Homo sapiens: one gene and its partners. The protein of the gene in region 3 purifies or fractionates together with the protein of the main gene of each other region. This does not show direct contact. Each region holds a gene or a part of one and is shown on either strand. Other genes may lie near its edges. The genes, in order: ACOT13, OLA1, NLN, WARS2, SLC19A3, PFAS and RPIA.

The links.
Region 1: the proteins of NLN (region 3) and ACOT13 fractionate together in Homo sapiens (co-fractionation; one large-scale study listed by BioGRID). This does not show direct contact.
Region 2: the proteins of NLN (region 3) and OLA1 fractionate together in Homo sapiens (co-fractionation; one large-scale study listed by BioGRID). This does not show direct contact.
Region 4: the proteins of NLN (region 3) and WARS2 fractionate together in Homo sapiens (co-fractionation; one large-scale study listed by BioGRID). This does not show direct contact.
Region 5: the proteins of NLN (region 3) and SLC19A3 fractionate together in Homo sapiens (co-fractionation; one large-scale study listed by BioGRID). This does not show direct contact.
Region 6: the proteins of NLN (region 3) and PFAS fractionate together in Homo sapiens (co-fractionation; one large-scale study listed by BioGRID). This does not show direct contact.
Region 7: the proteins of NLN (region 3) and RPIA fractionate together in Homo sapiens (co-fractionation; one large-scale study listed by BioGRID). This does not show direct contact.

The regions. Positions count from the first base shown.
Region 1 is NC_000006.12:24,698,077-24,701,576, reverse strand, and holds part of ACOT13 (acyl-coenzyme A thioesterase 13), read right to left. Parts: intron 119-3,500; coding exon 1-118. UniProt on the Homo sapiens protein: Catalyzes the hydrolysis of acyl-CoAs into free fatty acids and coenzyme A (CoASH), regulating their respective intracellular levels. Has acyl-CoA thioesterase activity towards medium (C12) and long-chain (C18) fatty acyl-CoA substrates.
Region 2 is NC_000002.12:174,081,033-174,084,532, forward strand, and holds part of OLA1 (obg-like ATPase 1), read right to left. Parts: intron 1,033-3,500; coding exon 892-1,032; intron 217-891; coding exon 120-216; intron 1-119. UniProt on the Homo sapiens protein: Hydrolyzes ATP, and can also hydrolyze GTP with lower efficiency. Has lower affinity for GTP.
Region 3 is NC_000005.10:65,728,705-65,732,204, reverse strand, and holds part of NLN (neurolysin, mitochondrial), read right to left. Parts: intron 1-3,500. UniProt on the Homo sapiens protein: Hydrolyzes oligopeptides such as neurotensin, bradykinin and dynorphin A. Acts as a regulator of cannabinoid signaling pathway by mediating degradation of hemopressin, an antagonist peptide of the cannabinoid receptor CNR1.
Region 4 is NC_000001.11:119,032,654-119,036,153, forward strand, and holds part of WARS2 (tryptophan--tRNA ligase, mitochondrial isoform 1 precursor), read right to left. Parts: intron 1,561-3,500; coding exon 1,442-1,560; intron 736-1,441; coding exon of another isoform or gene 707-735; coding exon 258-706; 3' UTR 1-257. UniProt on the Homo sapiens protein: Catalyzes the attachment of tryptophan to tRNA(Trp) in a two-step reaction: tryptophan is first activated by ATP to form Trp-AMP and then transferred to the acceptor end of tRNA(Trp).
Region 5 is NC_000002.12:227,708,029-227,711,528, forward strand, and holds part of SLC19A3 (thiamine transporter 2), read right to left. Parts: intron 1-3,500. UniProt on the Homo sapiens protein: Mediates high affinity thiamine uptake, probably via a proton anti-port mechanism. Has no folate transport activity. Mediates H(+)-dependent pyridoxine transport.
Region 6 is NC_000017.11:8,262,789-8,266,288, reverse strand, and holds part of PFAS (phosphoribosylformylglycinamidine synthase), read right to left. Parts: intron 3,370-3,500; coding exon 3,296-3,369; intron 3,181-3,295; coding exon 3,024-3,180; intron 2,715-3,023; coding exon 2,653-2,714; intron 2,515-2,652; coding exon 2,353-2,514; intron 2,078-2,352; coding exon 1,952-2,077; intron 1,820-1,951; coding exon 1,688-1,819; intron 1,395-1,687; coding exon 1,164-1,394; intron 1,002-1,163; coding exon 821-1,001; intron 734-820; coding exon 650-733; intron 428-649; coding exon 272-427; intron 56-271; coding exon 1-55. UniProt on the Homo sapiens protein: Phosphoribosylformylglycinamidine synthase involved in the purines biosynthetic pathway. Catalyzes the ATP-dependent conversion of formylglycinamide ribonucleotide (FGAR) and glutamine to yield formylglycinamidine ribonucleotide (FGAM) and glutamate.
Region 7 is NC_000002.12:88,743,673-88,747,172, reverse strand, and holds part of RPIA (ribose-5-phosphate isomerase), read right to left. Parts: intron 1-3,500. UniProt on the Homo sapiens protein: Catalyzes the reversible conversion of ribose-5-phosphate to ribulose 5-phosphate and participates in the first step of the non-oxidative branch of the pentose phosphate pathway.

The DNA of each region.
Region 1 (3,500 bases), on a different chromosome or scaffold from region 3:
TAATTTTCCTGTGGCCTTGTTGGTCAGATCCACAGAGGTAAATGCAAGTGTTTTTCCTTGCTTCAGAACATGTGCTGTAATCACTATATCTTCTCCTAATTTTGCAGGTGACATGTACCTTGAAAGAAAATGAATATAGTTAACAGCAGATAATTTTTCAAAGGGAAAGTTGTGTGCATCTCACAACAGTGTTCCTATGTAACTTATTTTACTCCTAAAAATAGTTTTAACGGTAGTATTGGTAAGCTTTCTGTACTATCAAATGTGAATGGCTGGTCCTAACCAGGTTCTATTTTACCCATTCCTTACCCACACAAGTTTCTTTTCCCAAATATGTGAGAAGAGGTTTTCTTGCCTCCCCTTTTTTCCCTTTACATTTCCCACTTCACATTTATTTGGGGCTGGTGAAAGATTTCCTCCAGCTTTCATTTAATCTCCTTAACTTCTTAGATGAAATATCACTTGGTGTCTGTATATTGTCCTATCCATATTTACAATTTATTTGACTCTAAAATGACAATATAACAACTATAAGGAATTGATATGATGTCCTTACAATCTTGATGATGGACTGTCTATATTTTTAAGAGATGTACATCCTAGTCACTTGTAATCATAAGTTGTCTTTAACTCAGCTGGCTCCAGCTAATTAAAAAAAAAATTGGGGAGATGAGGATTGTTTAAAACAAATGTTAATGTTTTAAAGGGAAATAATTTCCTTACAGTTTATTTTTATGTTTCTGCTTTTTAGAAAGAAACCTTTAAAAAGGATATGTATTTTTGCCATATTCAAAATAAGACTTCAGTATTTATGGCTAGGAGGTATAAGAAAGGTGGATCTGGCCGGGCACGATGGCTCAAGCCTGTAATCCCAGCACTTTGGGAGGCCGAGGTGGGCAGATCACCTGAGGGCAGGAGTTCGAGACCAGCCCGGCCAACGTGGTGAAACCCCGTCTCAACTAAAAATACAGAAGTTAGCTAGGCATGGTGGTGGGCACCTGTAATCTCAGCTACTTTTGAGGCTGAGGCAGAAGAATGGCAGGAACCCAGGAGGCAGAGGTTGCAGTGAGCCGAGATCGCGCCACTGGACTCCAGCCTGGGCAACAGAGCAAGATTCCATCTCACAAAAAAAAAAAAAAAAAAAAAAAAAAGGTGGATCTTATTGCTGGAAAGAACAGGCTTGTCTTTAATTCACATACCTCAATGTAAAGAAATGAAAAATAGTATGTTTAGTAGTAGTTTGGCCAGTTTTTATTATTTCCCTAAATTTTGTCTTAGAAATCAAGAATTTTGGCTAACAGCCATTAACTTAAACTGAGGGAAGATAAGGAACCCTTTGTGCTACAGATGAGTAAACATTAAGTCCGGGGAATTTGGAGATTGACATTTTGTCAGTAATACTCTAAAATTTCCCCTTTTGTTGTTTTGGAACCTCGCTTGTTTTTAACCTAAGTCACAGTCTAACAGGCATCCTCAGTCTGTATAATATAGGACTTGATGTGCAGGGGTGGAGTAAATTTGGTACCATGTCAAGTAAATCAAAGAGTGAATCATGAAGTGTTAACTGACTGAAACATTATTCATTTACTTTTGAAATATCTCTAACTTTTGAAAGACCATGTCCTAGTTTTTGTTGAAGTGAATCAGTTTTTGAAGCGTAGGCAGCTCTTGATGGCCAATGCTTTTGGCAACACATATTTGAAAGGCCAAAACTATGTTTGACTTACTGAAAATTCCTTAGGGTTCTAAAGGCAAAAGTACCTTAGTAGATCATGAAATGCAGTGCTAGGTTTGAAGATCTCTCTGCTCTTAATAGAGACTTTTAGGGAAAATCAAGTCATCTACTGATCTCACCTCTTACCACATGAAATAAGGACTGCTGAATATGCACACCAGTAACATAAGCAGAGCCTTTCTTTTCTGTACATCTTAATTTCAAAAAGAGCATTTGGCTGCATCTTGTAATTTGCTTATTGTACCCTCAATTTAAGTTATTCCCATGAAGAGGGACTGAATGTTTCTTAAGTAAACTTGATAAAATATTTAGATTCCTTAAAAGCCTACATTGGCTGGGCGCGGTGGCTCACGCCTGTAATCCCAGCACTTTGGGAGGCCAAGGCGGGCAGATCACAAGGTGAGGAGATCGAGACCAGCCTGGCTAACACGGTGAAACCCCATCTCTACTAAAAATACAAACAAATTAGTCGGGCATGGTGGCAGGCGCCTGTAGTCCCAGCTACTCGGGAGGCTGAGGCAGGAGAATGGTGTGAACCCGGGAGGCGGAGCTTGCAGTGAGCCGAGACTGCACCACTGCACTCCAGCCTGGGCCACAAAGCGAGACTCCGTCTCAAAAAAAAAAAAAAAAAAAGCCTACATTATTTCCATTACCCTCATATCTACTCACAATGGCTCTCTCAACCTGACCTCTCAGTTAGTTACATTTTTGTTGCTTAGGTGGAAAAAGCAGTTGTCTTGAAACTAAATCCCTGTGCCCAGCTCTTTCTTTATTGAATGGGGCTGCAGTAGTACCAGTTTATGTTGGAATTGAGTTTCTTACATTTTGGAAGTTTGACCCTGAGGGGCACTGTTCCCTGATCATGTAGTTTAACTCACAGAACATGTCTGTGTAGTCACAGGGAGAGATCCAGGATTGCTGCCCATTCTTAAAACTCAACACTTTGGGAGGCTGAGGTGGGTGGACACTGGAGGTCAGGAGTTCAAGACCAGCCTGGCCAACATGGTGAAACCCCGTCTTTACTAAAAACACAAAAATTAGCCCAGCATGGTGGCGCACACCTGTAATCCCAGCTACTAGGGAGGCTGAGGCAGGAGAATTACTTGAGCCCCAGAGGCGGAGGCTGAAGTGAGCCAGATTGTGCCGCTGCACTCCAGCCTGGGTGATGGGGAGACTCCGTGTCCAAAAAAAAAAAAAAACCCCAGCAATGGTGTTCAGTTTGTTAGAGTAAGATTATAATGTGTATATGAACTCTAACTTTACTTTGAATTGTATGTACTCAATACAATCCTCATAGTGTTATAAGTGGTATTTTTAAAATTAAATAATATTTATTTTTTGTAGAGATGGGGGTCTTGAACTCCAGGCTTCAAGCAATCCTCTTGCCTCGGCCTCCCAAAGTGCTGGGATTATAGGCGTGAGCCACTGCGTCTGGCCCTGAATGGCACTTTTAAGGACTGTATGAAACAGTTATGAGCCATCAGTTTGTGATTTTTCCCCCTGCATCAGTATACACATTAAAAGCTGAATGTTGCTCTTTTGAATGTTTGGGATCATTCCCTTTTTACTATTGATACACACTGTACTTGCAAATTAACTGCTCTAGTTCTAGATTTTAAGGCTGGAATATTTTAGGACAAAATCTATAGGTGCAGTTAAGGAGATAAGCAGCTAATTGAATCTCATGCGTTACTAATAATATAAATGTGTTTAGTCTCAGTTGTTTAGACAGTTATCACACAGAAGGGATTTGGAATACAGTTTG
Region 2 (3,500 bases), on a different chromosome or scaffold from region 3:
AAAACCTCATCTGTAATGACTAGCTAACCGCCACCATGACAAACTTCAAAGTCAGTGATATCAATCTGAATTCAATAGTGTGGAACTGGATATAGCTGATGAATAAGTATGAATCTTACCCTGATGGTCCATGCACGCACTTCATCTGGGCCTGCAGTGAAAAAGTATTCTAGTTGGAGTGCTGCAAACCCAGCCTTAATGATCTTTGGCAAAGCACTGAAATCAAATGAAACAAATTCACCCAACACATAAGTTGATTGTGCCAGAAATTGGTATAGAGCTAAAATTATTCATTTCAAGCAGAAAATGTTAAAGATAGTAGTAAATGACCATTCATCTTTCAGAATACACTGGAAGGGTTCAGAAAGCAAGTAACTGTTTTTAAAAACCTCTCTTCTAAAATTGGTTTTAATTGTATTAGCCTGAAGATATTATTTTGAATTGTTTGCTATTTAAAAAAAGAAAAATTATGACTATTTTCATCCAAAATTAATTATTTCCAGGACCTGGCCATAAAAGCAAAATTATTTGATTGAAATCTGATATTTAAACAATATATTACTGTTACTCAGAAAAAATTATGGCAACTGATTCACCCTTTCCCCTCCCCCACTGAACATGACGAAAGAGTTTTGGCGATCATTCCTTCTCAAAAATATACATAACTAATACCTATGTTATAATTAAAACACTGTACGGAGATGACAGATGACAGTTAAAAACTTAATTTAAAATAAATCTTTTCACTCTGTCTCATGGTAAAGAAAGGAGAAGATTCCCTCTTTATAATGGTAATTACTCTGTCATTTATTATTCTATCAGCGCAAGCAATTAAATTACTGCAAGGAAATAGTTGATAATAAAGTGTAGGGAAAATGAATGCTAATTAACCTTTGTGTCATGTTCGCTTCCAGATACTTCTGTCTCTCCTCAGCACTCAATTCTTGCAACTTGAGTTCCAAGGCCCCACTAAAAGGAATGACCAAAGCACCTGGGTCATACTTGTCCACCCACTCTTTAATTTTTATCAACCTGTAGACAAAAAAGGGCACAACATTATCTTGTAGTGCATGCATGACTGTACCACATTCATTATTATCAAGTAGCACATACATATTCATAAGAATTGCACGGTTTTATGATGCCATCTTTTTGTATATAGCTTTCCAAGGTCAAGGCATTAACAGGCAGCAACTGCTTCAGGTATACGCCATAGTATTTTACTGTAACCTAGTTTTACTTTAGCACATTATCTATGGAAACTATTATACAAATATTTAAAAACTTTTTTTAGTTACACTAAAATTGTTCAGCATTAACACCTGTACCCTTGAATAAAGCTTCCATTTTATAATTTTTTGTTTTCCTTACTTTACAAAGTAAATTTTTAAAAGAAGACATAAAGTTCTGTTTGTACAGGAATCATACCTAAAAATACCAGCTAATTCTGAAGAGCCCTTCACAAATAAATAATTTGTTCCAGCCAGATATCTATATGCCTGGTTTAGTTCCTTCATGGACTAACAGAACTCACAGTGGTCACTAGTTTTGAGGAAGCTTTTTCCTAGCCAGAACAAGCACGTGCAGAAATACAGATTTACAAATATGGTTGATCACGTACGCAGCTGTATGAACCTGACTTTTGTGAGAACAAGAATAATAGAACTGCAGAGGAAAGAAATTCCTTTAATCACAAAGGATTTGGAAAGCCAAATCAGTTAGGAAACTGATCCTAGTTGTTACCTGAAAAGACATTATTGAGTCATTTTTTTTCCTTCCAAAGCATGGAGTATTTGGCAAAGTAGTAATTAGAACATAAATGAAATAAGTGTAGTGAATATATTAATTAGGTTCAGAGCCTAACACTTTCCTAGCTTTTTATTACTGGGCAGGTTACTGAACGTTTCTAAGCCTCAGTTTCCTCACTTGTAAAAATAGAGATAATAATAGTACATATTATATTGTAAGGAACCTAGAAAAGCCTGCAAATAGTAAAGAATTAACAGCAGTTACTATTATTAATTTTCCTTCTCAGATAATCATAGCATACATTCCTATGAATCTGGAACTGAGTTTAGTGTGAGACTATACATTCCATTAAAATTTTTATAAAATTATGCTATAGGCTTACATAATTCCACTAGACTGCTATATTTAGACAAAGGTTTTAATAGTTATTATGGCAAAATGCTGTGGCAGAAGTCCTTTAAATAATTAATGTAAATGCCACTTTAGGGGAAAAGAAAAACAAGAACTAAGTCACAAATCCATCAATGGCAGGGGAGCAGAGTTATTAGAAAATTAAGACTATGGCCCATTGAGCAGGATTTAGGATGGGAGAAAGGAATGAAAAACAATCACACAAGAGTTTGTATATGTTTGTTATACAAAGGTAACTACTTATTTAGTATGTTATTTGTGGTTTTCAATCTTCATAATAGTATTTTTTCTTTTGTTCATATCCCAAAAAATGGACCAAGTCCTATGATTTATGTTGCCTTTAACATAAAATTCAAACTAGATGTTTTCTTAACCAAAATTAAGAAGGACAGGTTAAAAAAAAGGTGGGGGGACTGAAATTGGTGCTTCTGTCTCCGTTAACATTATGGTATTCTAAGTTACTTCACAGACTTACACTATTCAAACAAAAGTCTATATTCAAATGTTATCATCAATGGTTTAGTAACTTACTTTCATTATACAAGTTAAAATCAAATATGTAATTTTAAAAAAGCAGATCACATACCAAATAGATTCAATGAAAGTGAAATAAAACAAGCCCATGTAAAAGGAGAATATAAAAATATCATACACACTTTATTTCATAAATATGGTCAACAGAACTAATAAAACTAGAACTGTTATGAAACAACAAGATAAGAAATAATTACTTTAGCTAACACATCAATTCAGAATAACAATAGTCCTACCCTGTCATTTTAACAGCCTTTCCTGCAGAGTTCTCAGAGGGATTATTTGCATTCCTCAGGTGTTCTATTGTACAATTCAAATGAATAAAGACTTACAAATCATTCCTCTACCGCCAATGTGAGACTTTGATCTGGTGAATACACTATTGTACCTTAACTATAATTGGCAAAAAACCTGACAGTGTAGAGCATCACAAGCTTAATAACAAAGGAGAATATCTCAAAGTGTTGACAGATGATCTTCATAATGCAGAAGCAGAGCTGGTACATTTTAGCAGTAAATGAGCACTGAGGTCTAAAGGTCTCTAAAGTGACTGACATCAGACCTGCTATAGCCTCACTAAAAGAAAAAGGTACCGTAGCACTCTCCCGTAAAGTGAGTTAGGCTCTTTGCCTGCCAGCTTCACTTTTGTGACTTTCACTGTCATAGAAAACACAGGGAAGATGAAAAGTGAGTGAGGTTCTTTGGCTGTCTGCTTTACTTTTGTGACTTTTACTATCAAACAAAAGTGGGAAATGTCCCAAAATGATTTTTAATTACATCTATGAAATAAACCTAGGGTAATTAAA
Region 3 (3,500 bases):
TTATACTTCTTGCAGTTTTGCAGTTTCGGTGTTGATTTCCTTTTTGTTTCACTCAATAATTTGAAGAAGTCTTTTTAAAAAAGTCAGCCCTCATGATAGATAAAGGGTTTAAGTGTGAAAAATGAAACATAAAAGTACTAGAAGAAAATGTAGATGCTGGGTGTGGTGGCTCATGCCTGTAATCGTAGCACTTTGGGAGGCTGAGGTGGAAGGATTGCTTGAGCCCAGGAGTTTGAGATCAGCCTGGGCAACATGGTGAAACCTTGTCTCTACAAATAATACAAAAATTAGCCAGGTGTGGTGGCTCACACCTGTAGTCCCAACTACTTGGAAGGCTGACGTGGGAGGACTGCTTGAGACTGGGAGGCAGAGGTTACAGAGAGATGAGATTGTTCCACTATACTCCAGCCTGGGTGACAGAGCTAGACTCTGTCTGAAAAAAAAAAAAAAAAAAAAAAAAAAGAAAATGTAGGTGATTTTTAAAATACATAATCTTGGGGTGGAGAAGGACTTTCTAGGAATGAGACCAAAGGCAGAAATCATAAAGGAAAAGACTGATATTTCTGACTGTATAAAAATTTAAACTTTTGTAGGGATAAAGCAAAAAAGCAAAAAGCAACAATAATCTACCCCAAAAGTTCAAAGATCAAAAACAACTGAAACATCTATGAGGGGCTCTTACAAAGTAATAATCCTAATTTTAAAAATCCCAAAATAAAACTAGGCAATTCACACAAGTAAAAACAGTAACTAATATTTCTCGAGATTTTATTATGTGCCGATGTGGTAGACTGATAACTAACATGGCCTCAATTTTCTACCTGCTATGAGTCTATGTCTCTTAACAATGTGAGTTTGCTGTTCTACCCATCAAGAGATAGAGTCTGTTTCCCCACTTCTTGAATCTGGGCTAGCCTTGTGACTTGCTTTGACCAGTAGAATGTGGCAGAGCTAATGAGGTTCCAGTTCCAACTGCCTTCCACTCTCTCATGGAACCCTGCCACTGACATGAGAACAAGCCAGAGGTGGCTTCTTGGAGGACGAGACGTCACAGGAAAGAGGGCCAAATAGCCCCAGCTGTGGCCATCCTACATCACCAAACATGTGAGAGAGGATAGCAGAGATCAGCAGAGCTGCCTACACAACCCATGGCTGACTGAAGGAGCATGAATGAGTTAAGATCAGAAAAACTGCCCAGCCAAAATCTAGATTTGTCAGCAAAAATAAACATTGATCATTGTACTCCACTGAAATTCAGTTTGTTATACAGCATTTTTGTGGTAATAGGAATGGATATAACCAGGCAATGTTCAAAGTGTTCTATATTTGTTTCAATCTTAAAAGGTGAGTACAGGCCAGGCACGGTGGCTCACGCCTGTAATCCCAGCACTTTGGGAGGCAGAGGCAGGTGGGTCACTTGAGGTCAAGAGTTCCAGCCTGGCCAACATGGTGAACCCCTGTTTCTACAAAAAATACAAAAATTAGCTGGGCATGATGGCGGGTGCCTGTAATCCCAGCTACTCAGGAGGCTGAGGTGGGAGAATTGCTTGAACCCAGGAGGAGGAGGTTGCAGTGAGCTGAGATTGCGCCATTGCACTCTAGCCCGAGCAATAGAGTGAGACTCCATCTAAAAACAAACGAATAAAACAAAAAAAAAAAAAGAAGAAAATAGAAAAAAAAGGATGAGTCCAATTTTTCCCTGTCTCATCTCCTACTTACTTGCCTGACATTTATTCCATGCTAGTCACAATGGTCTCTTTACTTTCTCAAAAACACCAGGCATAGCCCTGCTTTCAGAGCCTTGGTGTGTGCCGTTTCTCCTGCTTAGAATGACCTGCCTCAGGTATTCACATAGCACAACTGCTCATTTCTCTTAGATCATTACTCAAGTATTAATATCACTTTCTTGGTAGCCTTTCCTGTTGACTCTACAATTTCCTTCCTATCGGTACTGAGCATTCCCCTTTCCCATTTTACTTTTGCTCTGCAGCACATTTTCCCATCTAACTTACTTTATATTTTCCTTAGTTGTCTCTCCCACTGGAATGTAAGTTCCATTAATGCAAAGATTTTTATCTGCTTTGTTCATTGCTATATCCCCAGACCAAGAATACTATTTCGCATATAATAGACAATAAATATTTGGTGAATGAAGAAATCAGCCAATCAATTATCAATTTACTGAGGAGGAAACAGATACGGAGAACTTAAGTATTCTTGCCTAAGATCACAATGCTAGTCAGTGGCAAAACCAGCATTCAAACTCAGGCGAGCTGTTTCTAGATTTATATAGTCGACTCTATGATGCTACATGCACTTTGCAATGCGGCAGCTTGGCATTTACATATGTATTCAATACACATCAGTTTCCTTGGTTCTTCATATCTTTAATTCAGGGGATTCTTCCCAAGTAAGTCCTGTGCTTTGTCTTAACCAAAGAGGTGATAATGTTTAACTCTGAGAAAGAACCAGGTTGCTTCTGACCAAAACCAGGGTTAAAGGACAAACAAAAAAGAAAGAAATCAATCCTCGGCGGAGCACGGTGGTTCACGCCTGTAATCCCAGCACTTTGGGAGGCCGACGCGGGTGAATCATGAGATCAGGAGTTCGAGACCAGCCTAGCCAACATGGTAAAACCCCGTCTCTGCTAAAAATACAAAATATTAGCTGGGCGTGGTGGCAGGTGCCTGTAATCCCAGCTACTCCGGAGGCTGAGGCAGGAGAATCACTTGAACCCAGGAGGCGGAGGTTGCAGTGATCCAAGATCGTGCCACTGCACTCCAGCCCGGGCAACAGTGCAAGACTCCATCCTAAAAAAAAAAAAAAAAAAAAAAAGAAAAGAAAACCTATTTTATAACCAAATCCATTTGTACAAATAATGTCAACCTAGCTCTTGATACTTTAACTTAAAAAACCCTTTCTTTACTAGATTTTTTTCCCCAATACTGTTCTCTTAACATTTTGGAGATTATGCCTACTGGTTTTAGAGGAATAATCTCAATTTTATTTAATTACACTTAGACCTGTAAATATTGTTAAGTTTATTAATAACTGTAATTTAGGCTGGGCCCAGTAGCTCATGCCTGTAATCCCAGCACTCTGGAAGGTTGAGGCGGGCAGATCACTCGAGCCCAGGAATTAGAGACCAGCTTGGGCAACATGGCGAAGCCCTGTCTCTACAAGAAATACAAAGATTAGCCGGGTGTGGTGGCAAACACCTGTAGTCCCAGCTACTCGGGAGGCTGAAGTGGGAGGATCGTTTGAGCCCGGGAGGTCGAGGCTGCAGTGAGCCATGATCATGCCACTGCACTCTAGCCTGGGCAACCAAGTGAGACTCTGTCTCAAACAAACAAACAAAAACACCAAGAAAACTGTAATTGAATTTGTCTGACTTTCTAAGATTTTCCATATAAATAAATTTTCACATCAGACAACAAATAACTTTTTGGTTTCCAGACCACAACTCCTGAATTTTTGTTTAGGAATTATACTCACTGAAT
Region 4 (3,500 bases), on a different chromosome or scaffold from region 3:
TCAATAATTGGGGATTCAGACAGCTATGCCTTCTTGATTTATTTTTTGTTGTTGTTGTTCACAGCATTTTGTTGATGGGATTTGGAACACTGTCGTATTTCAAAGCTACAAAGCAATATTCATCAAATAAAGCCAATAATCAGCTATACCAAATTAAATGTCCCAAAACTATAACTTTTTCTTTTTAGGAAAGCTGCCGTTATCAGAATGCATGGAGTGCAAGGCACAAAAGCCTTGCTGTGATTCGTTGAAACTTCCTATAGAAAACCCACCAATTTCTTCACCTCCTGGCACACAGTGTATGCTAATTCTTTGGCTTTTGCTGATCCAATTTGTAAAACCTTCTCTAAATGGTCCTTGTCCAGCTTCAGTTTTTCAATTTCACGCTTAATTGGGGCAAACTTCTCAATCACAGCATCTGCCACGGCCAGCTTGTAGCGAGCAGTGTTCATGCCCGCGCTGCGGCGCACCACTTCCTCCACGGAGAGCCCCGTCACCGCGGCATGCACCGCCACTATGTTGGACACGCCAGCGCGGCCAGCCGGGTCATAGGTGACCTCCGAGGTGAAGTCTGTCACAGCCTTGCGGAATTTCTGCACTATCTCCTCTGGGCTGTCTGTTATTCGGACGGTGGCCAGTTTGTCAGGGTCTGATTTCGACATTTTGGCAGAAGGATCACGTAGGGATTTTACCTTCTTCATGGATGCTAGGTTAAAAACACCAACACACACATACCCAAAACAAAAACAAAACAAACAGATCACCAAGATGTACACACAGACAGTTCCCAACTTGCAATGGTTTGAATTATGATTTTTCAACTTTACAGTGGTGCAAATGTGATATCCATTCAGTAGAAACTGTACTTGAAATACCCACACAACCATTCTGTTTTTCACTTTCAGTATAGTATTCAATAAATTACATGAGATATTCAATACTTTATTATAAAATAGGCTTTGTGTTAGATGATTCTGCCCAATTATAGACTAATGTAAGTGTTCTGAGCACGCTGAAGGTGGGCTAGGCTAAGCTGTGATGTTCAGTAGGTTATGTGTGTTAAATGCATTTTTGATTAACAGTGTTTCCAACTTACAATGGCTTTATCAGGATGTAACCCAATTATAAGTCAAGAAGCATCTGTTCATACTTCATAAATTATATACTACTTTATAAATATTATTTTAAATTTTTGGTCTCTTCCATACTTTTAAAATATTTTTAGTTATCCTTTTCAATAATCCAACATCTTTTTCAGGAATCCAACGTAGTCTACTTTCTAGTCCTACACTAGAGAAAACAATGAGGACTCTAGTTACAGATCCTGAAGCCTGTCTACAAGAAAGCTGAGGTTAGTCCCAAGAAAGTTCCAAGCCTATCTATTGTCCAATCCTCTCTTTAGAATATACCCTGATGTAACAATTATAAGTTTCTTACTTACTGAGAATGGACTCGGGCACTGGAAAGAACTCCCCATACTTCTTGTTGAAACCTTGTGCTAGATCCTGAACTAGTTCCATGTGCTGGACTTGATCCTCCCCAACAGGAACGTGTGTGGACCTTTAATAAAAGACAGACAGAAAAACAACAGCAAGGCTCTTTCTTAGAGACAGAAATGATATTGCAAGCAGCTGCATTTCCTGTGAATATTTCACTGTTGGTATTCAACAAATGTTCACCAACTATAGAGGGAATGTTTAGACCTAAGTCTTTATCTATGGATCAGACAAAAGCCAAAGAGATGTTTCTCTACTCTAGTTGTGTTTTTTCCACAGCAGGGGAATACAGCCATCAACACCAGCATGACAGGATCTTGCTGGGAGGGAGGAATGGGATTTTAAATAGCATATGCTCTAGGCACAATTGTGTTTTAAAACTACTCCTCATTCCCTCACCCAGTCAGCACATATTATTCCCAGCCCTGACCAGATGCTCTTTACCTCAGAACTACAGCTCATACTTGAAAGACACCCCACCCCACTCTTCAAATCAAAGGCAGCAGAAAGTTCTTCAGGCAAGAGTTTTTCCTCCCTGTCACATAGGGAGTAATTCAATATTCTTTGGAGTAAGCTTCATTTTCAAGTACATTGCAATCACAGGACAATTAATATGTTGCAGAGAACTTAAAATCTATAAGTACAATGTAGATGGCTATCAAAAACTATGTGGGATGAAAAAAGCAAGTTGGAGAAAACATGAAATACACTGACATTTACGTAAATTTTACAAGTGCCTATGGAAATATATCTGTAATAATAAGTAAAAAAACATACTGGAAGCTCCTCCCCAAATTTGTAATTGTAGCTGCTTCTAGAGAAGGTGGAAAGGAAATAGATCTGAAGAAAAGAACAAAGGAGACTTGAATTTTATCTGTAATATTTCATATTATGAAGAAATGAAGATGTGAAACCAAAAATATCAGAATATAGGGAATGACTTCATCATGAGTTTAATCCCATATGTAAAGTTTGCAGTGTCAGATCATGACATAGTACATCAAATAAGGGAAGAATGAACCATTATAGAGAAGTCTTGATGAGGAAAATTTTATACTGAAGCAATATGGCGGGATTAAAAAACAGGCAATTTTATACATGCAATGCTTGGCTGGGAGTTTATACCTGATAATACAAGTAATACAGTGCGCTGAGGTTTTTTTAATCAAAGAAACAATATTGCTCCTGTGAAAAAAGCAGCGAGCCATCATAGGCAAGTTTCTTACCCTTTCTAAGCCTTCGTTTCCTCTGTAAAGTGAGGTTCATCATGGAGCTTACCTCATATAGCTCTTTCATGGATAACACGTATACTAATTGATAGTAAGAGCTCAATAAATGGTTGCTATTGATATAATATATAACTATATATTCATTAATATCTGACATGATGAAGGACAAATAAAGGTAAAATGAAGGACAAATGGTAAAATAAAGATACTATAGAGAACCTTGATGAGGGGTACACTGACTTTTTTCACACCAGATCATTTTCCTTTTTCAGAGCTGACATACCACAAATAGTAATGCATAATCCCAGAGATAGTCACAGACCTGGGCAGTGATCCTGATATGCATAGAAAACTTACTTGAAACTGACAGTTCACATATCTGATCAGGTAATCCCAAAATATAAATGGTATGTTACAGGAATTCTGAGAGCTCTTTTAATTTAAGGAAAACAAGAACAGAACAATCAATGGAAAGGCAAAATGTAAGGACCATGACAGCAGACCCAGAGTGGTTTCTCTTCTTCTAAGGTCAATAAGTGAATGTTGGCCAGGTGCATTGGCTCACGCTTGTAATGCAGCACTTTGGGAGGCCAAGGTGGGCGGGTCACCTGAGGTCGGGAGTTCGAGACTAGCCTGACCAACAAGGCGAAACCCGGTCCCTGTTAAAAATACATAATTAGCTGGGTGTGGTGGTGCATGCCTGTAATCCCAGGTACTCCGGAGGCTGAGGCAGAAGAATCTCTTGAACCCGGAGGCGGAGGTGGAGGCTGCGGTG
Region 5 (3,500 bases), on a different chromosome or scaffold from region 3:
TGAATCTGTATTTGGAGCCCATTGCCATGTATTCCACATAAGGCCACATTGTTTACTGCTGGCTCCCCTTCTTTGGGGTACGTGGGGTGCCACAGCCTTTTGAAAAAAACTCTCTTGCTAGCATACCTAATCCTACTTCATTTTAAAATGCTCTTAGTTTTCTTTTTTTTAATCTCCCACAAAAGTTAACTTGTATTTTGACTATGAATGAATTTGGCAGGAGTGGCTTCTCATGATTTTTGTTTTTATCTGCCTTGCAACCTATTACATGTTTGCAAAATTTCTTTTTATGCAACCTATTACACAGTTGTAGTCTCTTTGTATCAGAGTTCAATTTTTTCTTTCTTCTTTTATTTCAATTATTACCATGTTATTGGCTTTTCCACTTTTAACCATCTCCTTAAATTGTTCTTTCCACCTGGCAGCCGGACACGGTGGCTCATGCCTGTAATCCCAGCATTTTGGGAGGCTGAGGCGGGAGGATTGCTTGAGCCCAGGAGAGCCTGGCAACATAGTGAGACCCTGTCTCTATCAAACAAACAAACAAACAAACAAACAAACAAACCAAAAAAACAACAAAAAAAACTTTCCAACTGGCTGCAGGCTAACCTTCTTTGATAGATAAATGCTTTCACAATAATTATAAGTGTTTAGTTGATTTTTAATACTATCTCTGAAACTGTCAGTGTTCTTATAGTGACTGCAAGATAAGTTCATTTGTCATCCTAATTCTGTAGCATAGAAAAACTAAGGTTTTTGTTTATTTGTTTTTAGTGGGAAACAAAAAAAAATTACTTCATTGCTAGGATCTCATTTGGAGTGAGTTACAAATGAAGATTGGAACTCACATCTCCTGGGTTTGCTGCTGTATTTCCTTCAGTGAGTCTTATCTCAGAGTCACTGTGCGGATTAAGACCTTTCCATAGTTGTGCACACAACAATGTTCACGTATTGTTCATATATGCATTGGGGAATCATATTGGATCTAAGCTAATTTGGACCTTATTTAAATTTCAGACATGGATAGTGTCCTATTTCCTAATCCATAGGTTGTCTGTATCTATCTCTAAGTGCATATACTTAAAAGCCCTATGTCCACAAATATTTCCAAGTATATTTTCCATTTTTGTAGGGTAAACAACTGTTAAAAAGCAAGAACTGCAGAAACTGAGGCCGGGCACTGTGCCTCATGCCTGTAATCCCAGCACTTTGGGAGGCTGAGGCGGGTGGATGACTTGAGGTCAGGAGTTCAAGATCAGCCTGGCCAACATTGGTGAAACCCCGTCTCAAACTAAAAAATGCAAAAATTAGCCAGGCATGGTGGCGGGCACCTGTAATTCCAGCTACTTGGCAGACTGAGGCACGAGAATCACTTGTACCTGGGAAGTGGAGGTTGCAAATGCCAAGATTGAGCAAATGCACTCCAGCCTGGGTGACAGAGCGAGACTCTGTCCCAAAAACAACAACAACAAAAGAACTGCAAAGCTGGCATGCACTGGTGGGTTTCCTGAAGCCAGGGTGATTTTCTAGCTAAGGTAAAGCCTTATTTGGTCAGATTCCTCCACCCATACACACCCACTTGCACACCCAGAGGATGGAATTCTCCCACAGCCAAAGCACTCAGAGCTGTGGGGCTCCCTGAGGTAGGGGACAAGGTGACCTGATGAAAGCAAGTAACTCCCTCAAACCTGATAAGTTTCCCACAACTGACTGCCTGGAGAAGAACAAGATATTGGGTGGGTGGAAAGAAATCACTTTATCAAGTCCTCGTCCATGTTGTACTGACAATACTGCCAGAATTAACCCAGATGCCAGTAATTTGGAAGGAAATTATCTACAATAGTGGTACCCAACCTTCCTGGCACCAGGAACCCGTTTCATGGAAGACAATTTTTCCATGAAAAAATGGGGGAGGAGTTAGGGGGAATGGTTTTGGGATGAAACTGTTCCATCTCAGATCATCAGGCATTAGATTCTCACAAGGAGCTCGTAACCTAGATCCCTTGCATGCACAGTTCACAGTAGGATTTGCACTTCCAGGAGAATCTAATGCCGCCACTGATCTGACGGGAGACGGAGCTCAGGTGGTAATGCTTGCTTGCCCGCCACTCACCTCCTGCTGTAATGGCCCGTTCTTAACAGGCCATAGGACCCCTGATCTAGAATCCCCACTCTCCACCTACTTCCTGCCCACTCCTTTCTACTAATCATTCCAGCCATCTCAGAGAGGGTGTCTAGCCAGGCAGCCATCTGAGAAATGGGCTAGCCTGATTTTCACAATAGGCTAGAACTTTACTGCAGTCAAAACACTTCTTTCAAACAGAAGAGCAATAAATTGGTAATTATATGTTTGCCAGACTCCATCTCTACAAAAATACAAAATAAGGCTGGGTGCGGTGGCTTACACCTGTAATCCCAGCACTTTGGGAGGCCGAGACGGGTGGATCACCTGAAGTTAGGAGTTCGAGACCAGCCTGGCCAACATGGCAAAACTCGGTCTGTACTAAAAATATAAAAATTAGCCAGTTCAAGACCCGCCTGGGCAACATAGAGACCCCATCTCTTTAAATATTAAAAAAAAGAAAAACGAATCTTACAGAGCATGATCTTCAGCTCCTTCCCCCCCAGTTTTTAGACTATCTATGGACCCCACTCCAAGCTATCTTATTAGCATAAACACGTTATCAAAGAGGGTCATTATGAATAAAAAGACACCTGTTACTCAGGAATTCCCAAAAGTTTTAGCTTAAAGACCAAATACATTTTATGTTATATCAGTTACAGTTTCCAAAAAGCCCACCTCCCAGGCTTTCAACACTGCTAGAGTCAAGCCCTTCCCTAGACAGAGCAAACTCAAAGTCTGATTACTAAAAACAAAAATATTTGCTTTTAGCTGACATATCAGAGCAGACAAACTAATTATGCCTTTTAATCTGCTTATTACTAAAATAGAAGAGAATATAACTTTCAGTAAAACATTCAAATAAAGCAAAGGGCTGCAGTCAGCTTAAGTCAGGGCAAGATGGTCCTGAAGGAAGGCAGGGGAAAGGATTCCAGGGTCTTGCTTAACCACCGTCGTTCTGCTGCAGTCAGAATTAGTGGGTGGTGGCCAGGCGCGGTGGCTCCCGCCTTTAATCCCAGCATTTTGGGAGGCTGAGACAGGCAGATCACCTCAGGTCAGGAGTTCGAGACCAGCCTGGCCAAAATGGTGAAACCCCGTCTCTAATACAAATACAAAAGAATTAGCTGGGCATGGTGGTGGGTTCCTATACTCCCAGCTACTTGGGAGGCTGAGGCACAAGAATCTCTTGAACCCAGGAGGTGGAGGCTGCAGTAAGCCAAGATAGTGCCACTGCATTGTGGCCTGGGTGACAGAGCGAGACTCTGTCTCAAAAAAATAAAATAAAATAAAATAAAATAAAATAATAAAATAAAATAAAAATTGGAAGGTGGTTCCACCAACTTCTAGGGAGTTATTGTATTCTGGCTGTAACTTCATC
Region 6 (3,500 bases), on a different chromosome or scaffold from region 3:
AGGCATGTGACGAGGCCTCCGTCACTGACATCGTGGCCTGAGCAGAGGAGGCGGTCTGGAGGAAGGAGAAGAAAGCTCAGCAACCTCGGGACCCAAACCTGACAGCCCCACCCCACCTTCCGGAGTCAGTCCATCAAGAGTGTGTGTCAGAATGTCAGGGGATCTGGGGTACATCGTCCATTGGAGTCCCTTTTGCCCCACTGCTCAGATGGTGAACGCCTGCTGCACGCCTGGCACCCTGTGCGCTATCTCCCCAGGGGTCTTCACTCACCTTTCAGCAGCCCCTGAGTGATGCTGAAGGCCCGCACCAAGTTCTCAGGAAGGTCCAGGTCTGGAGGGTGTTCCCCAAGCTGGGAGAAGCACTGGGCCAGAGCTGTGCCCCCGAGCCGGTGCTGCCCAGGGCTCAGAGCCACATAGAGCAGATGGCCTGGGGAGACGGGGAGGGGTGAGGGGAGGGGAACAGCTCAGGAGGACCCATCCCTGAGGGGCTCACAGCACTGCTATTCCCAGCATGTGGTGAGACACCTAGACAATCAGTCCCAGAAAACACCACAGCCCAGTGTTGAGATGGGGGCCCAGCACTCACAAAGCAGGAGCCAAACAAAGATCACACAAGCAAAGATCACAAAGGATGGGGCCATGTCCATACCTCTCCCTTCAGGATGCTTGAGGTCTGGGGTCACAGTGGCTGTGATGTCTGGGCAGACGGCATAGGCTGAGATGACCAGTGACCCTGTAGAGCAAGGAGGAGTCCAAAGGAATGAGTTGCCAACCCAGCTCCATAGTTCCTCCTCCCCTCCCTGGGGCTCCCACACCTCACCAGGAGCCCGCACGGTCTCAGTGCCAACCCGAGCAGCCATGCTGAGGGAGTCCTTGCCACCATCCACTGCCACACCCAGGGCTGCCATCACTGCCACCATAGCCTCACAGGCATCCGCCAAAGCTGCGCCCTCCCCTGGGAGCTTGGCTGCCCACATCCAGTTCCCGCTACACTTCACATCCTGGGGGTGGCAGAGGCACAGCATTAGAGGGGAAGAGAAATGTGGAGAGGCCAGGGGTGCAGGCGGACTGGGAGGTTGCAACATGAAATGAAGGGCTACAGATGGATGTGGAAGGGTCCTGAAGCCCGGGGGCTCCAGGATAGAAGCTGTGGGAGAACTCACCCGGAGGTCAGTGACCAGAGCAAACACCAGGTTGGTGAGGGCTTCGGCCACGGCCAGCCGGGCGGCGACTTTTGGGTCCAGCAGGCTCTTGACTGGCTGTTCTCCCAAGGCTGTGGCAGCCCCTATGAGCTCCTCATGGCTCAGTGCCACAACCGCTACATCTGCCAGAGGAGTTTGCAGGGGCCCCACGCACTGCTGCTGGGCCACCAGGCCTCCCACAGAGCGGTCCACCTGTGGAACCAGGTGGGGTTAGCAAGAGAGCAAGGGACAGGGACAGCCTGAGCTCCCGCACATGCCCCCAAGGCACTCAGGGCAGTGGGAGGCCTGTCTTTCCCCCAATGCAGACAACAGCTCTACTTAGAAGGTGGGTAGCAGGGAGACCAGGCCATCAGGGTGGCTGCCCTGCCCCTGCTGCTTCCTGCAGGGCCAGGCAAAAACCCCCACAGCACTTTCTAAGGGTGGGAGGGCAGAAGAGGCTGAGCGGAGGAAGGAGGCAGGGGGCAGAGGAAGGGTGCAGGGAGGACCTTATTGGTGAGGTAGCGCTTGCTGGCCACGGCGGGCAGCCTCAGAACCCTCTCCAGAGCCTGGTGCACGCTCAGCCCTGGGGGCAAGGCCAGAGGCTGCAGCATGGGGGGCTTCCTCTGCAGGAAGAACTCCTGCAACACAGACAGCGACAGGCAGTGTGAACACCTGGGGCGGGCTGGGCACACAGGCGACAAAGTGCACGTAGGGTAAAGGGTGGTGTGGAGAGGACCACAGGAAAAACCCATCCCCTCAACCCCACATACCTTCCGAGGCATCTTGCCCAGCACCCATTCGAGCTCCAGGTCCACAGGGGTTGGCAGGGGTGTCGGGGGGGCATCCCCCTGGCCATTTCTTCTGACAGGACACTCCCGATCGTCCACCAGCACTATCTATAGACCACAGGGACCCCACCCAGAGGGGATGAGACTATGAACACCAGCAAGGAATGTTCCTAGAAATCAGGGCACAAATGTGCTTTCCACTCCTTGTTTGGTTTCCATATTGAGTCCCTGCCCCTCCTTGGATCCAACATTCCCCACAGCTTGTTTGCCACTACCTCCCATCTTCCTCTCGTCTCTCTCCCTTGACAGCTCTCCCTCTAGCCCATACCCAGGTGGCTCATGTCTGCCCCAGTGTTTGCTCCCAACTCCCTGGGCCAACTCACTCTCCGGTCTCCAGTGATGGTGCCCACGAAGCAAGCCGGGCAACGTTCACGGGCACTGACATGAGTCAGGAAGTCCCGGTTGGGGGACCTCAGCAGAAGAGCATTTGATTCCTGGTACTCAGCCCCCCAGATTTCCAGGGCATTCAGGGTTGGGTCCCCAAGCTGCACAGCCACGGCGGGGAGGAAAGAGAAGGGCCAGTGGGCACTCCCACGTCTCATGTTGTTGCAAGAGAGATGGGTGGAAGCGGGCTGGGGCTGGCAGGGGTGGGAAAATGTCACACTTCAGGGGACGAGACCCACCTGGAAGCGGCTGGTGTAAATGATGGCTCCAGCTGGGTCACTCAGCTCTTTTAGGACATTGCCTGGTGAGAGGGTTGCAAGGAGAAGCAGTGACCTAGTGGTGGTCAGGCAACAAAGGGCAGTCCCTGGCCTCCAAAGGGGCCTGTAATTTGGTGTGTTCCTGTGTCAACTGCTGCCGCACCCTTACCACCAATCATCCCACGGCAGCAGGCTTCCACCCTTCCAACCCTGAACCTGTCTAGAATGTACAGAGCATGGAGAATGGGACCCAGAGCTGGGTGGTTGGTTGGAGATTCCTGATACCTCTCCCTAAACGAAACCTGGCAGGATACCAGGCAGGCCCAGTCTCTTGTTCCAACTCCTTTCCTCACCATTGCCACCAGCGCCCTGATCATGAAGGCTGCAGATGGGGTTTCCCTTGGGGGCCTCCACACAAGCCCTGATCACACGGTTCATCTTCTGTTCCATCTCCGGGTCTCCTCGCTGCACAGCCCCAAAGTCCAGGTCACTGGTGTTATCTCCCTGCACCTGGGGGCATATATGGCATAGCTCAGCTCAGCGAGACTGGAAGCTCCTATACGCTCCCCTATGCCTGGGGCCCGGTTATATCAAGGATTCTGCACCTTTAGCAATTCCCACTCACCTGCACAGATGAAGCAGCTCCACCTCCAACTCCAATCCTGTAGACGGGACCTCCAACCTTTACAACTTCCATGCCTGTAAGAAGGGAAGGCAGAATCAGAACACTGGGGAAGCCACGAGAAGAGGCCTCGAAAGCAAGGCAGCGTGAACACAGAGGAAGCTGATGTTAGGGAGAAGCCTGACCAGCTTTTTTTTTTTTGAGATGG
Region 7 (3,500 bases), on a different chromosome or scaffold from region 3:
ATAACTCCATTGACCTGAGAACCACTCCCCAACCCCACACAGTGGCCACAGCAAGCCCTGCCCAAGGAAAGTCTGACTCAGACCCACCTAACTCTGCCCTAACCTGATGGTTTTTCTCTACCTGCCCTGGTAGCCAAAGACAAAAGACATAAACTCTTGGGAGCTCTATGGCCCTGCCCATTACCTAAGAAACCAAAATACTTATCCTGGCCTACATAGACAAGCTTGTATCCCCCCTATACTACTACAGCTGATGCTTTCTTGAAAGCACCACCTCCTCGCTGAAGGCCAACCAACTCAAGCCACTACAGAAACTCGTAACAGAACAACCCTGCTCCAAAAAGGGAAAAACAACAGCTAATTCCACCGCCTGCAACATCCTGGCTAACCAGAGATCCTGAGTCTGTCCACATGGCAACTTCACTGCTAGCATAAACCAGCATTCAAGAAAACCAGTGCACTAAACAAAAATACAACCAGGGACTCCCACAGAGTCCACTTCACTCTCCTGCCACCTCCACCGAAGCAGGTGCTGGTATCCACAGCTCGGGGACCTAAAGACAGATCACATCACAGGACTTTCTGCAGACATTCCCCAATACCAGCCTGGAGCCCAGTAGCCGCACTGGGTGGCTAACCCCAGAAGGGCATAACCACTGCAGTCCAGCTCTCAAGAATCCTCATCCTTAGGGGAAGGCGAAGAACACCCCATCAAGGGATCACCCCATTGGACAAAAGAATCTGAACAGCAGCCCTTGGGTTCCAGATCTTTCCAATGAAACAGTCTACTCAAATGAGAAGGAACTAGAAAACAAATTCTGGTAATACGACAAAACGAGGTTCTACAGCACCTCCCAAAGATCACACTAGCTCTCCAGTAACGGAGCCAAACCAAGAAGAAATCTCTGAATTGCCAGATAAAGAATTCAGAAGGTTGATTATTAAGCTACTCAAGGAGGTACCAGAGAAAGGTGAAAACCAACTTAAAGAAAATTTAAAAGGACTCCAGAGAAACAGATATCATAAAGAAAAGATAATCAAACTTCTGGAAATGAAAGACACATTTTAGAAATGCAAAATACACTGGGAAATTTCAACAACAGATTAGAACGAGTAGAAAAAAAGAACTTCAGAGCTCGAAGACAAGGCTTTCAAATTAACCTAATCCAAGAAAGACAAAGAAAAAAAGAATCAAAAAAATGAACAAAGCCTCCAAGAAATTTGGGATTATGTTAAACAATCAAACATAAGAATAACTGATGTTCCTGAGGAAGGAGAGGAGAGAAATCAAAAAGTTTGGAAAGCTTACTTGAGGGAATAATTGAGGAAAACTTTCCTGGTATTGCTGGAAATCTAGACATCCAAATAAAAATGCTTGAAGAACACTCAGGAAATTCATTGCAAAAAGATCACCACCTAGGCATATAGTCATCAGGTCATCTAAAGTAAGACAAAGGAAAGAATCTTGAAAGCTGCCAGGCAAAAGCATTAGGTAACCTATAAAAGAAAGCCTATCAAATTAACAGCAGATTTCTCAGCAGAAGCCCTACAAGCCAGAAGGGATTGGGGTCTTATCTTTAGCCTCCTTAAACAAATTAATTATCAGCCAAGAATTTTGTATCCAGCAAAACTAAGCTTCATAAATAAGGAAGAGATACAGTCATTTTCAGACAAACAAATGCTGAGAGAATTCGCCACTACCAAGCCAGTCCTACAAGAAATGCTAAAATGAGTTCTAAATCTTGATACAAAACTCACAATACACCTAAATAGAACCTCCTTAAAGCATAAATTTCACAGGACCTATGAAACAATATCACAGTGCAAAAAAACAAGGTATCCAGGAGACAACTACCATGATGAATAAAATAATACCTCATATCTCAATATTAACGCTGAATGTAAACTGCCTAAATGCTCTACTTAAAAGGTACACAATGGGCCAGGCTTGGTGGGCGGCCAAGGCAGGCAGATCACCTGAGGTCAGGAGTTTGAGACCAGCCTGGCCAATATGGTGAAACCCCGTCTCTACTAAAACCACAAAAAAATTAGCCAGTCATGGTGGCGGGCACCTGTAATCCCAGCTACTCAGGAGGGTGAGGCAGGAGAATTGCCTGAACCTGAGAGGTGAAGGTTGCAGTGAGCCAAGAACATGCCATTGCACTCCAGCCTGGGCAACAAGAGTGAAACTCTGTCTCAAAAAAATAAAAAGATACACAATGGCAGAATGCATAAAAATCCACCAACCATGTATCTGTTGTCTTCAAGAGACTCACCTAACACATAAGGATTCACATAAACTTACTGTAAAGGGGTGGGAAAAGATACTCCACACAAACAGAAACCAAAAGCAAGCAGGAGTAGCTATTCTTCTATGAGACAAAATAGACTTTAAAGCAACAAGTTAGAAAAGACAAAGAGGAACATTATATAATGATACAAGGATTAGTCCAACAGGAAAATATCACAATTCTAAATATATATGCACCTAATACTAAAGCTCGCAAATTTATAAAACTGTTACTACTAGACCTAAGAAATGAGATAGATGGCAATACAATAATAGTGGGAGACTTAAGTACTCCACTGACAGCACTAGACAGGTCATCAAGACAGAAAGTCAACAAAGAAACAATGAAATTAAACTATACTCTGGAGCAAATGGACTTAACAGATATCTATAGAACTTTCCGCCTAAGAAGTACAGAATATATATTCTTTTCTTCAGCCTGGAACATTCTCCAACATGACAGGCTACAAAACAAGTCTCAATAAATTTTAAAAAATCTAAATTATATCAAGTACTCTCACAGATCACAGTGGAATAAAATTGGAAATCAACTCCAAAAGGAACCCTCAAAACTATACAAATACATGGAAATTAAATAATCTGCTCCTGAATGATCTCTGGGTCAACAATGAAATCAAGATGGAAATTTAAAAATTATTTGAACTGAATAATAATAGTGATACAACCTATCAAAACCTCTGGGATACAGCAAAAGCAGTGCTAAGAGGAAAGCTCATAGCCTTAAATGCCTAAACCAAAAACTCTGAAAGAGTACAGATAATCTGAGGTTACACTTCAAGGAACTAGAGAAACAAGAACAAACCACACTCAAACCCAACAGAAGAAAAGAAATAACTAAGATAAGAGCAGAACTAAATGAAATTGAAACAAAAAATACAAAAAAGATAAATGAAACAAAAACCTGGTTCTTTGAAAAGATAAAATCGATAGACCATTAGTGAGATTAACCAAGAAAAGAAGAGAGAAGATCCAAATAAGCTCAATTACAAATGAAATGGGAGATACTGCAACCAATACCACAGAAATACAAAAGATCATTCAAGGCTACTATGAACACCTGTATGTGCATGAACTAGAAAATCTGGAAATATACAAGCCTCTTAGATTAAAGCAGGAAGAAACAGAAACTATGAACAAATCAATAACAAGCAGCGACACTGAAACAGTAATTAAAAAAACTGCCAACAAA